Linked DNA regions of Homo sapiens. The protein of the gene in region 4 purifies or fractionates together with the protein of the main gene of each other region. This does not show direct contact. Each region holds a gene or a part of one and is shown on either strand. Other genes may lie near its edges.

Region 1 (3,702 bases), on a different chromosome or scaffold from region 4:
TACAGAGATGTTGAGTAACTTGTCCAAGGTCACAGATAAGAAATAGCAACTGGGCATGGTGGCTTATGCCTGTAATCCCAGCATTTTGGGAGGCTGAGGCGGGAGGATCACTTGAGACCAGGAATTCAAGACCAGCCTGGGCTACACAGTGAGACTCTGTGTATAGAAAAAAGAAAAATTAGCCAGATGTGGTGGCACACACCTGTAGTCCTAGCTACTCAGGAGGCTGAGGTGGGAGGATTGCTAGAGTCCAGGAGATGGAGGCTGCAGTGAGCCAAGATCACGTCACTGAATTCCAATCTGGGCAACAGAGTGAGAACCTGTCTCAAAAAAAAAGAGAAATAGTCAGGATTTGAATCCAGGCTAATCTGGCTCCAGAGGTCATGCTCATAAATCCAAGGCTATGTGGGCTCTCCATGCAAATTATTTAATATCAGAATTATGGTTATAATGTTTCCTTTCTCCCTCCTTGTTAAATAAAATCATAACACCTTTCCAGGGGATGAGCATCTTTCCAAAAAACTTATCATCCCTGCACTTGTCCTCCCCCAGACTCTTCCCACTGCTCTGCACACTTTTTGTGCTCTGCCCTGCACCCTCTGCCAGGATTCTCACCTGCCATTTTTTCCTCACAGAAGTGCATCAGCAGAGGGGAGCTCCAGGTGTCTCTGTCATATCAGCCTGTGGCACAGAGAATGACAGTGGTGGTCCTCAAAGCCAGACACTTGCCGAAGATGGATATCACCGGTCTCTCAGGTAGCAGCTATTTACTTCAACCTATTTCTTACTGTCTGAACCATCCCCGACTCCTTGCCTGTGGCCCAGATAGACCTCCACACTTCAAGATCCTTGCCTCTTTCACTTTTAATCTGCTCCTCTTTCTGTAGACATTCTCTTCCTGATGAGTATCTACGTCCAATAGATTTCCCTGGCTAGGAAGATTCTTCAGTTGAACAAATGGGGTCTTTACATTTGGCAAGGTATCCTAAATAATATTCATGCCAGGTGCTAAGAGAGACTTCTCAAAAAGGCTGCAGGCATTTGTCTCTGTGCCCTTTAATATACTTCTTGGTATCATGGGATTTCTTCAGACCTAACCTGAGAAAGTTGTTCTGTTCTATTCCTGCTTGGTTTCCTTGGCCCCTCATCCAGGCAGGCAGACTCACATATAGTCAGTGTGTGTTTATTGTGCAATCACTAAAGAACACATGGGATGGCCATCAAAGATACGAACAACAGAGCCCCCCCTTTCCCAACATGAAATTACCATTACATAGGAGAGGACTGTGTCATAGGTCTGTCTCCCTTTTTCTTATCTCTTTGGGGGCCCCAGATCCTTATGTCAAGGTGAACGTCTACTACGGCAGAAAGCGCATTGCCAAGAAGAAAACCCATGTGAAGAAGTGCACTTTGAACCCCATCTTCAATGAATCTTTCATCTACGACATCCCCACTGACCTCCTGCCTGATATCAGCATCGAGTTCCTCGTTATCGACTTCGATCGCACCACCAAGAATGAGGTGGTGGGGAGGCTGATCCTGGGGGCACACAGTGTCACAGCCAGTGGTGCTGAACACTGGAGAGAGGTCTGCGAGAGCCCCCGCAAGCCTGTGGCCAAGTGGCACAGTCTGAGCGAGTACTAATCCTGTTCTTCTCTCCTCTAATCCCCGGGGGCCAAGCTGGGGAGGGATGTGGAGGGGAAAAAGATGACAGAGAAGTGGACTCCAAACCTCATTTTAGTTGTAGAAGAAAATTTCTTACAAAACAAATTCCACAAAGAACACCCTATATGACCACAGCTGCAGATCAGTTCTTAGCAATGATGTTTTTTTTTCTGCTTTGCAAGGCGCTAGAATCTTTTATTTTACTTTATTTTTTTTGAGGTGGAGTTTCGCTCTTGTTGCCCGGGCTGGAGTGCAATGGTGAGATCTCAACTCACTGCAACCTCTGCCCTCCAGGTTCAAGTGATTCTCCTCCCTCAGCCTCCCAAGTAGCTGGGATTACAGGCACCCACGAGCATGCCCGGCTAATTTTTTGTATTTTCAGTAGAGATGGGTTTCACCATGTTGGCCAGGCTGGTCTCGAATTCCAGACCTCAGGTGATCCACCCGCCTCGGCCTCCCAAAGTGCTGGGATTACAGGTGCGAGCCACCGTGCCCGGCCTCTGGTTTTGTTTTGTTTTTTTTTTTTAATGGGGGACAAAAGAGAGGGAAAGACCCCTATAAATCTATATATAACAATGTAACCATATACTTGCATGTCTAATACAAACTGAAGAAATTAGCCTAACTGCCAATATCAAGTTGCAGATTTTAATCCATGGAAATTGTGTTTTGTGCTGAATTGTATTTGCTGATTACCTGAAATTGGCTTCTTTTTATTGGGCTTCTCTGGAGAATTTCTCCCACTCCCCACCTCTGCAGAAGAAAATTTTGCTCTTATAAAACCTCATGTTTTCATCATTCCCATCTTTTCTTTTTATTGCCTCTTATATCTCTGCTCTTTGACCTCAAGGTCTAGAGGTCTGCAGTAAGCCAAGAAACAAAGGTGGGGTGGATGAGGCAAGGTTTGCAGGAGAAAGAGGAATTGAGAAATGGGGTATTTTTGCTATCAGCTCTTCTGCTATGAAGTAGTAAAAGGCAGTCTATAATTAACTGACAGACCTAACTGAAGCACAGAGAATACATCAGACTTATGCATCCAAGACATCAGAACTTGGATTTTATCAAACTTGATGACTTCTCTAAAAGGAGCTTTGGAAACTTCAAATTCAGCTATAGGATAGTACCAATGAACACATCCAGCTGATCCCAAAAGCTGTTTTCAGGTATAAGGACAAGGAGAGGAGACAAGTGACGACAGCCATTCCCCTTTGCAGCTATCTACTGTAGTGACAGCCATTTCTTGGTTGATGGGTTGGAAGTCATCAGAGGTTTGAAGAATTACACTGGCCTTTGTTTTTCTGGAAATGCCGACCATGGAGATGCTTTAGAGTCTTCTCAAATAGCTTAGATGTTGTAATGAGGTTAGCTTTGCTTCATAAAACAGGGGCCCTCAGAAGTTCTCCTTAAATTTTTCAATAAAAATTTAGCTCTTAAAAAAATAACAGTGTGACTGAGTGAATGAAGATAAGTTGGATTCTTTCAGAGCATTCTTTTCCTCAAAACGAGCTGCATAATTCTTGGAATTTATGTCTTACCACATGGTGGAGGGATGGAGGAACTACAGGATGCAATTCTTCTTCTACCAATGGGCAATAGAGGTTGAGAGAGATTCAGCATCTTTCTGGGATTAGAATTCAAGTCTCTTTACTCCTACAGCAGCTGTGTCTCCAACGTTGAGACTTTGCAGATGGCACAGACTCCATGGATAATAGGTAAACTTGGGGCCGGGCGCAGTGGCTCACGCCTGTAATCCCAGTATTTTGGGAGGCCGAGGTGGAAAGATCGCTTGAGCCCAGGAGTTCAAGACCAGCCTGGGCTACATGACGAAACTCCATCTCTATCAAAAATACAAAAAATTAACTAGGTGTGGTGCTGCACGCCTGTGGTCCCAGCTATTCAGGAGGCTGAGGTGGGAGGATCATTTGAGCCCAGAGGTAGAGGCTGCAGTGAGCCATGATCATGCCACTGCACTCTGGGCTGGGTAACAGAGTGAGATCCTGTCTCAAAAATTAATTAATTAATTAATTAAAATAAACT
Region 2 (3,702 bases), on a different chromosome or scaffold from region 4:
TTGGTGATCTACTTTTACACCAAAAAATGAGTAAGGTTTTGTTTTTGTTTTTATTTCTCCACTGAAGTGAGAAAAAGTATAAGAATTCTCAAAAAGAATTAAAAAATCCAAGACTTAAAAATAAACAATGCTATATTTATTATAATCAGTAGTATACACAGGAGAATTTGTCTCGTAGTACTTTTTTTAAGTAAAGAAGCAATAACTCATACTTAAAAGCACTTTCTATTGTCAAGAGAGTTAAGCTGGAAAACACCAAAGGGATTTATAGTGTGCATGACACTAAACATCAAAAAGAAAAAAACTTAGGAAGTAGAACACACCATTAATGTAGGTAAAATAAAATGAAAAAACTAAAATGAACAGTGTAAAATGTTCAAACTATGGCATCAAATTAAAATTCAAATACACTGGAACATCACCATAATGTACTCTTGGAGTTTTCTGATTCGATCAGTCTCTCTGCATGAAAGGATGCCTCATAATAACCTGTGGTATTTATAATATTAATATTCCTTTCCAGTCAGTCAATAACATAATCTAAACCACCTTTTATCAAATTCCTGTCTAGAATCAACAATATTACATAATTAAATACCAGAATAGTTATAATCAGCTGAATCATAAAATAGGCTTTGAAATAGAACCCAAATTGCTTCATTCTCAAAAAATACAATGAAGCCAGTTGAAATAAAACAGCCTGAGTATTGAGGGTTTTTAAAAAATAACTTGACTTAATTAGTAAGATGCCTTTTAGAAAATCCTAAGGAAGGAACTTACGTCCATCATGAGGCTACAACAAGATTAGAAAAGGAGAAAACGTATACAATCCCAGAAGATTTACACTAATAGAACTCTTCCTGAATGCATGCAAAACATATCCCCTTGCTCTCTGTATTTCATTCTAAGGAACCAACAGGTAATATAGCTTTGTCATTCTCCTTCCACTAGGTAACTTACTTAAATTTGCTTAAACTTGCACTTTAATTTGCTAGTAAATATTTACTTAAATTTGCTACAGAGAGAGGGAAAAAAATCTGAATACCTCAAAAAGCTAAACCTGCAATCTGACTCTACTGCTGGCAGCTGGCAATTCTTATCTTTCTAGGAGATATTTTAAATGGAATATAAAGCAAATTCATTCTTCGATTTATTTAAAACAATTATTTCATTTGCCAATGTGTTTCCAAATAAAATTAAGCAGTATGTAACACTGTGCTTCCTCTTATGAATAAAATTCAACCCAAATGACTAATGGCCAGCAGAAATAAAATGGCTAACAAAAAGAATGCACTTAGGATAAAGATGAAAATTTCACTTTAAAAAAGATGGTGAAAAAACATGTTTTTTCATACTATGATACCTTTCTATTCAACCCCTCCTGACTACTGAACTGGGAAACATTTTAGGTTTCCTGACTATACAACTCTGACTCCCTGATTATCTAGGACAGGAGTCCACAAACTACAGACTGCAGTCCGAATCTGTCCTACCATCTGTTTTGTAAGTAAGTTTTATTTGAACACAGTCACACTGTATTCACTTGCATACTGTTTATGTTTGCTTTTGTGCTACAATGGCAGTTATGAAGTAGCATCAGCAAAAACTAAATCATTTACCTGTACCATTTGGTCATTCACAGAAAAAGTTTGCCAACCCTTGACTTAGAAGAATCTCTAGATGAGTGGTCTTCAACCGAAGTACTAAAGGCATTTAGGATGAAACAAGTCTTCATTGTATAGGGTTGTCCCTTGCTGTGCGGGATAGTCAGCGTTTTTAGTCCCCAACAGGACCTAGCACCCTAATCATTATGACTGAAAAATCTTGTTCCAAACACTCTGTGATGACAGTCATGACCACCATCATGTTGAAAATCTCTGCCTCTGACACAATGATGACACACACAGGCCAAATCAAGCCAACAGAAGTGTTTTGCAGGATCACACATAGATTTTCTAAAATGCATGACTCTAAATTTCTTTAGAATAGGGATCAGCAAACTCCTTTTTTTGTAAATAAAGACAAGAGATTGTATGGGCAGACCCTAAAGTATTGGCCTTTCCCAGAAAAAGTTTGCCAACCTTGGCTTTACAAGCAGCAGTATACTCTATTTAATTACACTCAGTTAGTTTATTCATATAAACTCCCTGGCCTCTAGACATTTGAGTTTAACACTTCTGCACAAATCAATTTTTCCTGCTTTATATACTATGTGGCCATTAATAAGTATAATTGGATTATCTGGTAGAGGGTTTTAAGTATTCCTCAGAAAATAAAATGCCACACAATGCTTGAATATTCATTTTATGCTTTATATATGCAGTGTCTAAATATCTGGAATAAGTTTAATTTTATATTACTTAATTTGTTTCATATTAAGATGGCATAGGCAGGGCACAGTGGCTCACACCTGTAAATCCCAGCATTTTGGGAGGTCAAGGCAGGTAGATCACTTGAGCCCAGGAGTTTGAGACCAGGCTAGGCAACATGACAAAACCCCATCTCTACTAAAAATACAAAAGTTAGCTGGGCGTGGTGGCCTGCCCCTGTAGTCCCAGCTACTCAGGCGGCTGAGGTGGGAGGATCACCTGAGCCTAGAAGGTCAAGGCTGCAGTGAGCCAAGACTGTGCCACTGAACTCCAGCCTGGGCAACAGAGCAAGACCCTGTCACAAAAAATAAAAATAAAAATAAATAAGACGGTATAAATAAAATATTAGGAATATTTAAATATTTTTAAGTTTTAAATTTTGACAGTCATCACCAATAAAAATCATCACAGAGAAAATGTTGAACAACCCTACTAAAATGTTTCAAATCAAATGAAAAAGCATAGATAAAAGATAAAAATCTTAGCAAGAACAATTTCATTGATTCATACTTACTCCTTCATTTCTTTGGATGGGGAATTACATGCAGGAAGGAATGCTGCTGGGCTACTTAATTTATCCAGAGTACACGCCGTTCCTATGGCTCGCACCACTAACCCAGACTCGCCCTCCAGATCGAAACACTGTAAGTACCCCACAACTGCATTTCCTCTCATTTCAAGTACTTTCAAGCCAATCTTCCTCTGCAGCTCACCTACAAAACATGGGAAATCTCATTCTTGCTTTGTAGCTTTACATTACATACTATAAGACTGGACATGGTAGTGGTAAAAAAAAAAAAAAAGACCAAGAAAATCACAGATTTTCAGAACTTGAAGGAAACTTAAAAGATAATCTGGTTTAGCCTCTACAGAATACAGAACATAATTCTATTACAATATAGCATAATTATAAAATATAATATATACTTATACAGCACAAATATATAGAATAAAAACAAATATATTTGCTATATAAATATAACATTGATACTTTGTGTGAAATACATGTATGAATATATATTCACACATATACACATATAACTCTTAATATAAATGTAAATTTTAAATAAAACAGTAAACAAGTTTTTCAAAGAAAAATTTAAAAAGGGAATGAGGTCAGAGTGGCAGGGAAAGTGGTCAAAAGGATAGAGGGAACTACAGTACCTAGGGAGGAACTGTGAAAAGGCAACATCTGAACAGAAAGTATGAGAGACAGAAGAAGGTGATTTGCTTAAGCTCTGACAAATAAATGGTAGATGAAGGAAAACTAGAATCCAGGTTCCCACTCAGGGTTCCTTCCTGAACGCCCCTTGCTCAGCGCTCTTTCCACTAC
Region 3 (3,702 bases), on a different chromosome or scaffold from region 4:
CAGCCTAGGTAATATAGTGAGATGCCCATCTACAGAAAAACTTTTTTTACTTAGTCAGGCATGGTGGCACTCGCCTGTAGTCCCAACTACTTGATAGGCTGAGGTGGGAGGATTGTTTGAGCCTGGGAGTTCAAGCTCACAGTGGCTATGATTTTTGCCACTGCACCCAAGCCTGGCGACACAGCAAGACGTTGTCTCTTTTTTTTTTTTTTTTGAGACAGGATCTTGCTCTGTTGCCCAGGCTGGAGTGCAGTAATGCCATCATAGCCCACTGTAGCCTTGCCCTCCTGGGCTCAAGCAACCCTCCAATGTCAGCCTCCCAAGCAGCCAGGAGTACAAGTGTGTGCCACAATGCCTAGCTAATTTTTAAATTTTTTGTAGAGATGAGGTCTCACCATGTTGCCCAGGCTGGTCTCTAACTCTTGGGCTCAAGTAATCCTCCTGCCTTGGCCTTCCAAAGTGTTATGTTTACAGATGTGAGCCACTTTCCTGGCCAAGACCTTGTCTAAGAAAAAAAAACAAAGGCTGGGCGCGGTGGCTCACGCCTGTAATCCCAGCACTTTGGGAGGCCGAGCCGGGCGGATCACGAGGTCAGGAGATCGAGATCATCCTGGCTAACATGGTGAAACCTCGTCTCTACTAAACACACAAAAAGTTAGCCGGGTGTGGTGGTGGGCGCCTGTAGTCCCAGCTACTCGGGAGGCTGAGGCAGGAGAATGGTGTGAACCCAGGAGTTGGAGCTTGCCGTGAGCCGAGATCGCGCCACTGCACTCCAACCTGGGTGACAGAGCGAGACGCTGACTCAGAAAAAAAAAAAATACTATCAAATACCCTCATTGTATTGTAATTGAGTATGAATTAATAATTAACTATGGTGCCACTAATAAGAACTATGTTTATCGAGTGCTTCTTCTCTACTGGATATCGTGCTAAGATCGTGCATCATCTCATGTAATTCCCTAGGCTCTTGGACAGATACTACTATTCCCTATCACAAATGAGTCAGCTGGCTGGGCGTGGTGGCTCACACCTATAATCCCTTTGGGAGGCCCCGGCAGGTGGATCACCTGAGGTCAGGACTTTGAGACTAACCTGGCCAACATGGTGAAATCCCATCTCTATTAAATATGGCTGGGTGCAGTGACTCACGCCTGTAATCCCAGCACTTCGGGAGGCTGAGGCGGGCGGATCACGTGGTCAGGAGATCGAGACCATCCTGGCTAACACGGTGAAACCCCGTCTCTACGAAAAATACAAAAATTAGCCGGGCGTGGTAGTGGGCACCTATAGTCCCAGCTACTTGGGAGGCTGAGGCAGGAGAATGGCGTGAACCCTGGAGGCAGAGCTTGCAGTGAGCTGAGATCCTGCCACTGTACTCCAGCCTGGGCGTCAGAGTGAGACTTCGTCTCTAATAAAAAATAAATAAATAAATAAACAAAAATTAGCCGGGTGTGGTGGCAGGTGCCTGTAATCCCAGCTACTTGGGAGGCTGAAGCAGGAGAATCACTTGAACCTGGGAGCCGGGAGACGGAGGTTGCAATGAGCCAAGCTTGCGCCACTGCACTCCAGCCTGGACAGCAGAGCGAGACTCCATCTAAAAAAATAAAAATAATAAATGATAAAAAAATGAGCGAGCTAAGGCTCAGAGGTGTCAAGTAATGTCAGAGTTTCTTGAAATCCCTAGAATTCAGAACCAGTTCCGTAAACCTCAGACATGGCTCAGCCACCCACTCCTCTCTGACGGTTCCAGGGTGACTCTGGAGGACCCCTCAACTGCCCCACAGAGGATGGTGGCTGGCAGGTCCACGGTGTGACCAGCTTTGTTTCTGCCTTTGGCTGCAACTTCATCTGGAAGCCCACGGTGTTCACTCGAGTCTCCGCCTTCATCGACTGGATTGAGGAGGTGAGGAGGGCAGGGCGGCCCGGAGGGCTTTAGGGTGGTGGCTCTTCTGAGAGGTGACAGGTGAGAAACATCGGATCCTGGGGAGGGCCTGAAAGGATCCTAGAAGCTCAGTGGGGAAGGGCCCTTGGGGACATTCCAGAAAGGCTTGGGGATGTTTTCTGATACAGTGTGACCCCAGGAACTTGATGGCTTCTGGGTGGTGCTTGGAACTACAGCTGAACTTCCTTATTTCAACAAGTATTTATAAAGTATCTCCTCTGGTCTTGTCCTCTCTTGTCAGGGAGGATAGAGAGACATGCCAGACAAGAGGCTGCCTGGTGGGGGACAGGTGATTACATGAATGAGAACGATGCAGTCTGATGAGAGCCGAGAGAGGGGAGTCCAGGCCCCAGACTTCATCTGGGGATGGGTGATCAGAGAGGACTAATAACGCTCATGGTAACAGTAATAGCTAAACAACAAAAAAAAAGAGAGTAATAGCTGGGCATGGCATAGTCATGCCTGTAATCCCAGCACTTTGGGAAGCAGAGGCAGGTGGATCACGAGGTTAGGAGTTCAAGACCAGCCTGGCCAAGATGGTGAAACCCTGTCTCTACTAAAAATACAAAAATTAGCCGGGCATGGTGGTGGGTGCCTGTAATCCCAGCTGCTTGGGAGGCTCAGGCAGAGAATTGCTTGAACCTGGGAGGTGGAGGTTGCAGTTAGTCGAGATCATACCACTGCACTGCAGCCTGGGTGACAGAGCGAGACTCCGTCTCAAAAAAAAAAAAAAAAAAAAAAGAGTAATAGCTAGCTGGGTGCAGTGATGCCCACCTGTAGTCCCAGCTACTTGGGAGGCTGAGGCAGGAGGATCGGTTGAGCCCTGGAGTTCTGGGCCATAGTGCGCTATACCCATCAGGTTCTGCACCAAGTTTGGCATCAATGTGGTGACCTCCTGGGAGTGGGGACCACCAGGTGGCCTAAGGAGGGGTGAACTGTCCCAGGTCAGAAACAGAGCAGGTCAAAACTCACATGCTGAAAAGTAGTAGGATCACACCTGTGAATAGCCACTGTACTCCAGCCTGGGCAACACAGCAAGAGCCTCTCTCTTAAAAAAATGAAAATAAACTAAATAAAATAAAACAGTAGTGCTTGCTTTGGCAGCACATGTACTAAAATTGGAATGATATAGAGATTAGCACGGCCCCTGCGCAAGGATGACATGCAAAGTCATGAAGCCTTCCAATAAAAAAACATTTCTGGTCGAGTGCAGTGGTTCATGCCTGTAATCCCAGCACTCTGGGAGGCCAAGGCCCATGGATCACCTGAGGTCAGGAGTTCAAGACCAGCCTGGCCGACATGGTGAAACCCCATCTCTACTAAGAATACAAAAAATTAGCCGGGCGTATTGGTGCATGCCTGTGGTCCCAGCTACTCAGGAGGCTGAGGCAGGAGAACTGCTTGAATCTGGGAGGCGGAGGTTGCAGTGAGCCGAGATTACGCCACTGCACTCCAGCCTGGGTGACAGAGCAAGACTCCATCTCAAAAACAAAAACAAACAAACAAACAAAAAAACAGTGATGATTTATAGACCATTTAATCCCTTGGTTCCCTGACCCATGTTAAAAAAATATATATATAAGGCCAGGCACGGTGGCTCATGCCTGTAATCCAAGCACTTTGGTAGGCCAAGGCAGGTGGATCACAAGGTCAGGAGTTCGAGACCAGCCTGGCCAATATGGTGAAACCCTGTCTCTACAAAAATATAAAAAAATTGGCCAGGCGTGGTAGTGCGTCGCTGTAATCTCAGCTACTTGGGA
Region 4 (4,466 bases):
CCTCCCAGGTCCCCTGCTTCCCCTCCTGCCCCTCCTACTCTGCAACTAGAAGGGCAGAGCTGCATCCTTGCACCGATCCTTCCGTGGCCACCCCCCCATTCAGCATCAAAGTCTGAGTCTGCGGCCCAGGTTGTGAGGCCCCCTGGGTCTCGCTCGGGCTCTCAGCTTTTCTTCCCTCCCACGCTTCCCCCAGCTTGCTCCGCTCCCACCAGGTCCGGCTCCTTGCTGTTCCTCCAGCGTGCTCAGCACCCTTCTGCCCCAGGGCCTTTGCATGTGTGCCTCCTCCCTCACCTCCTTCTCCATTCGGGTCACCTTCTCAAAGACCTCCCCACCCTCCTCTGTACGGCAGCCCTGCTGGCACCTGCTTCCGTGTCCGGCTTCATTGCTTTTCATAGCACGCGGTGGCTGCTTTACGCGTTGGTTTGTTTGGGGTCTGCCCAAATGCAGGCCAGGGACACTGGGGGCTCGGTTTTGTTCTTGATTTGTCTCCAGGGCTTGGCACAGAGCAGAAGCCAGGAAACGTGGGTGATGGAAGGAAACATGAACAGGGAGACGCAGGACGTGAGGAAAAGGGAGCAGACGCCTTGGCCAGGGGCCCTCTGGGGAGAATCCTCTCATCTGGGGTTAACCATTGTTAGCAGCAAAACCTTTTAAACAAAATCTTACACAGAACCCCACAATACAGTTATCTATTTATTTTGAGACAAGGTCTCGCTCTGTCATCCAGGCTGGAGTGCAGTGGCAGAGTCACGGCTCACTGCAGCCTCAAGCTCCCAGGCTCAAGCCATCCTCCACCTTAGCCCCTCAAGTAGCTGGGACTACAGGTGTGCACCACCATGCCCGGCTTTTTTCTTTTTTTTAAGAGATGGGCTCTCGCTATGTTGCCCAGGCTCGCCCACTCCCTTGTTTTGTTTTGGTCACACAGTTCAGAGAAAATCTTGACATGTGTAAAAATTAGGAATAGGAACAAAAAAAAAAATCAGGTATCCTGTTCAATGAAGCAAAAAAGTCATATGATTTCATTTCCAAACCGTGAAGCTGCATTCGACTGGAACATCCTAAAAGGTAGCACACAACACATCTGACTTTGAGTGGATGTTTTGCTGCATTTTCTAAGCGTTCCAATATCATATTAAAAAGTCGAGGCTGGCTTGCAGACCCTCTGAAGCCCCAGGTGGGGTTGCCAAGTAAAAGAACCCCGGAATAGTTTTTTACGTCTAAGAATGTCTTGTTAAATTTGTATTTCAGGCATGGCACAGACCTAGGCTGAAAAACCGACTCACTGTTTGTCTGAAATTCACGTTGAACCTGGCGTCGTGCACTTCCATTTGCTAAATGTGGCCACCTGGCCCTGTTCAGGGAAGGGGTTTGGGGAACGCGCGGCGGGGTGGGGCGGGGCCTGGGCGGAGCCTGCCGCGCCTGGGCGGGGAGATGGCGTCATCAGACTCTTGGGGGCGGGGCTGCCACGCATGGGCGGGGGCGGGGGCGGGGAGAGAGGGCGGGGTCAGACGTGAGGGGGCGGGGCGGAACAGAACTGGGCGCGCGGGGGCGGGGCCGGGCGCGCCGGCGCACGTGACGGTGGTTGCCAGGGTGAAAGTTCAGCGCGCCGGCGGCACTTCCAACATGGCGGCGGCCGGGGCGGCGGTGGCGCGCAGCCCGGGAATCGGAGCGGGACCTGCGCTGAGAGCCCGGCGCTCGCCCCCGCCGCGGGCCGCACGGCTGCCGCGGCTGCTAGTGCTGCTAGCGGCGGCGGCGGTGGGGCCGGGCGCGGGCGGTGCGGCGCGGCTGTACCGCGCGGGCGAGGACGCCGTGTGGGTGCTGGACAGCGGCAGCGTGCGCGGGGCCACCGCCAACAGCTCGGCCGCGTGGCTCGTGCAGTTCTACTCGTCGTGGTGTGGCCACTGCATCGGCTACGCGCCCACTTGGCGGGCCCTGGCTGGGGATGTGCGAGGTGAGGCGCGCCCCCGCGCGGGGACCCCCCGACCCCCGGGACCGCGGCCTTCCGGGACCCCTTGCGACCGCCCCAGAAGGCGGGTCCCGGGGCCCCTCCCCCGTATTTCTTTCCTTACCGCAGAGCCAGTCCCTGCCCCACAGAGGCACCCGACTCGGACCAACCCTGGCCTTTCCAGGGGCGGGAGACTAAGCCAGCTGCTCCCCATGTCTCTCCCAGTTAATCCCCGTTAGATCCTGACGAGTTGGGCTGTCTGAAGTCAAAATGAAACCATTCTCCCGCAGCCCTCACCGCACGCTTGGGGATAGGGAAGCCCTCCCGTATCCCAGCTCTCAAAATACCTATGTTTTGAGCCCCAAGAACTTCATTGACCTTCCAGGCCTCCTACCCTACCTGTTTCCTAGCGTCCACACACCCCATCCCCAGTGCCCAGAATTCCTGTTCTCTGAGGATCCCTCATTCCTATTCCACACTCGTAGCCACCCCATTCCCTTTGAACCTTCATCATTAACTTTCTGGTTCGGATCGCTGGCCATATAGTGGGTGCTCAAAGTGAACCCACAACTTAGAAGTCCAAATACTCTGGAGACTTCTCTATAATACCCCAAAACAACCTATAAAGCAATTTTTTTAACTCTACAAAGAATTTCATTGGTGGGCTCCTTGATCACAGATGCACAGCCTTTGAGAAATCTTTCACCAAACTGCTGGTAGTGTTCCGCACTTTATTGTTTAGTGCTTTCATCTGGTCGCACGTTGTTAACCAGTCACGAAGTTACTCGCCTGCTCTACAGGTTAGAGTTGGCGTGGGAGGGGGCATTCACAACACCCTTCCCTTAAAATGGTATTTAAATCACTGAAGTAGGAGGTCCTCCCGACCCAGTGAGGTTTGGCAGGACTTCCTGTGTTGTGCTAACCTCAAATTACATGTTTCAGTGGGCAAGATCTGTAACAAATTGCTACTCTTTCTTCCTGCACCTTTGTTTTTATGCCTTACACCCAATCCTGCTGTATTTTTCTCATCGCAAACAGATTTGTAAAGAAACTTTTTTTCAAGTCTAAGTAGGGCTTTTGTATGTTACTGTAAATGGTTATCTTTAAAATGCATTCTCCTCTTAGAGAGCTGGGGCCTTTTGATTCTAATGGATTCCTCCTCTTTGATCTCATGTTTTCTTATGTCCCTGTTGACCTGACTCAGAACTGAGGTCAGAGACTGGAAGAGATGGACAGAAAAACTGTTCAGTGGGGTTTTTAGACACTGCTTTTAGGAAAACAAACAAGTAATTCAATCACGTAGGGAACCCTTCAGTTCTTGTGTGTTATTCAGTGGCAGAAACAGATATGTTCATTAAAATGCAGGTGGCCCTGGCAGGACTTGGTCACTTTTTTTGTGGGTTTTGGTTTTGATTTTTTTTTTTCAGTTGAGTCGCTGAAGTCTAAAGATCGTACCAGATTCAAATATTGCAAATTCTGTAACCGAAGCAGCACATAGGCAGCCTTGAGAACTGTCCCTGGAGCTCAGAAGGAAGGCCCCTCCTGAGAGCCACACAGTAACGTCCATACCCAGTGGTGTGATGAACTCAACTCAGTAAGCCTCCTTTAGTGAGGCTGACTGTCTTCCCAGTCACGACAGGAAGAACAGGCTTGTGCCTGAGACTGAGACTGGAGGAGGATATGGCTGAAAGTGAAAGACAGCGGTGACCTGACCAGGCAGCAGGGAGAGGGCTTCAGGGAGCCCAGGCAGAGGGTCCTGTTGGCTAAAAAGCCAAACTATAAAATACTGAAAGAGGTTTGTTCTGAGCCAATAAGTGTAGTGGCCATGGCCAGGGGAACAGTGTCAAGAGGTCCTAAGAAAGTGTGCTCTAGGCAGTCACGTTAATTTGATTTTATACATTTTAGGGAGACAGAAGTTATAGGCAGAGAGACATAAATCAGTACATGTAAGGTATAGGAAGGGGTAGGTTTACAGATCATAGGTGGATTCTGACTGGCAATTGATTGAAAGAGTTAAGCTTTGTCTAAAGACTTGAAGTCAGCAAAGAGAAATGCTTGAGTTAAGCTAAAGGGGCTGTGGAGGCCAAGGTTAAGTAGATGAAGCCTCACAGGCAGCAGCCTTGGGGAGAATAGAGGGTAAATGTCTCTTTTCAGACCTGAATGCTGTCAGACTCGTTAAATGTCTCCTAGATCCAGGAAAGACCTAGAAAGGGAGGGAGATTCTCTACAGATGCAAATTTCCCTCACAAAAGACAGCTTTGCAGGACCATTTCAAATATGTCAGGGAAATAAATGTATTTGGGGGTGAAATATTTTGATTTCCTGCAGGGTGTGCTATTTGTCATGTGGTGCTGTACCCGAGTCAGGCTGGAGTTTGGTGTCGTTGCTGCTGAGGCTGTGCTGTCTGTCTGTGATCTCTGTTTCATCACGCTGGTCAGCTCTGCCTAAACTCCAAAGGGAGGTGATGTAACCAGGCGTGTCTGACCTCCCTTGCCGTCAGGGCCTGGAATTTCTTTCCTCA

The links. The genes of interacting proteins can lie anywhere in the genome.
Region 1: the proteins of QSOX2 (region 4) and SYT11 fractionate together in Homo sapiens (co-fractionation; one large-scale study listed by BioGRID). This does not show direct contact.
Region 2: the proteins of QSOX2 (region 4) and C2CD5 purify together in Homo sapiens (affinity purification with mass spectrometry; one large-scale study listed by BioGRID and IntAct). This does not show direct contact.
Region 3: the proteins of QSOX2 (region 4) and CELA3A purify together in Homo sapiens (co-immunoprecipitation; one large-scale study listed by IntAct). This does not show direct contact.

Annotation. Positions count from the first base shown.
Region 1 is NC_000001.11:155,879,865-155,883,566, forward strand, and holds part of SYT11 (synaptotagmin-11), read left to right. Parts: intron 1-635; coding exon 636-759; intron 760-1,324; coding exon of another isoform or gene 1,325-1,333; coding exon 1,334-1,644; 3' UTR 1,645-3,702. UniProt on the Homo sapiens protein: Synaptotagmin family member involved in vesicular and membrane trafficking which does not bind Ca(2+). Inhibits clathrin-mediated and bulk endocytosis, functions to ensure precision in vesicle retrieval.
Region 2 is NC_000012.12:22,520,543-22,524,244, forward strand, and holds part of C2CD5 (C2 domain-containing protein 5), read right to left. Parts: intron 3,083-3,702; coding exon 2,884-3,082; intron 1-2,883. UniProt on the Homo sapiens protein: Required for insulin-stimulated glucose transport and glucose transporter SLC2A4/GLUT4 translocation from intracellular glucose storage vesicle (GSV) to the plasma membrane (PM) in adipocytes.
Region 3 is NC_000001.11:22,007,955-22,011,656, forward strand, and holds part of CELA3A (chymotrypsin-like elastase family member 3A preproprotein), read left to right. Parts: intron 1-1,750; coding exon 1,751-1,903; intron 1,904-3,702. UniProt on the Homo sapiens protein: Efficient protease with alanine specificity but only little elastolytic activity.
Region 4 is NC_000009.12:136,242,961-136,247,426, reverse strand, and holds the start of QSOX2 (sulfhydryl oxidase 2 precursor), read left to right. Parts: upstream 1-1,614; 5' UTR 1,615-1,623; coding exon 1,624-1,951; intron 1,952-4,466. UniProt on the Homo sapiens protein: Catalyzes the oxidation of sulfhydryl groups in peptide and protein thiols to disulfides with the reduction of oxygen to hydrogen peroxide. May contribute to disulfide bond formation in a variety of secreted proteins.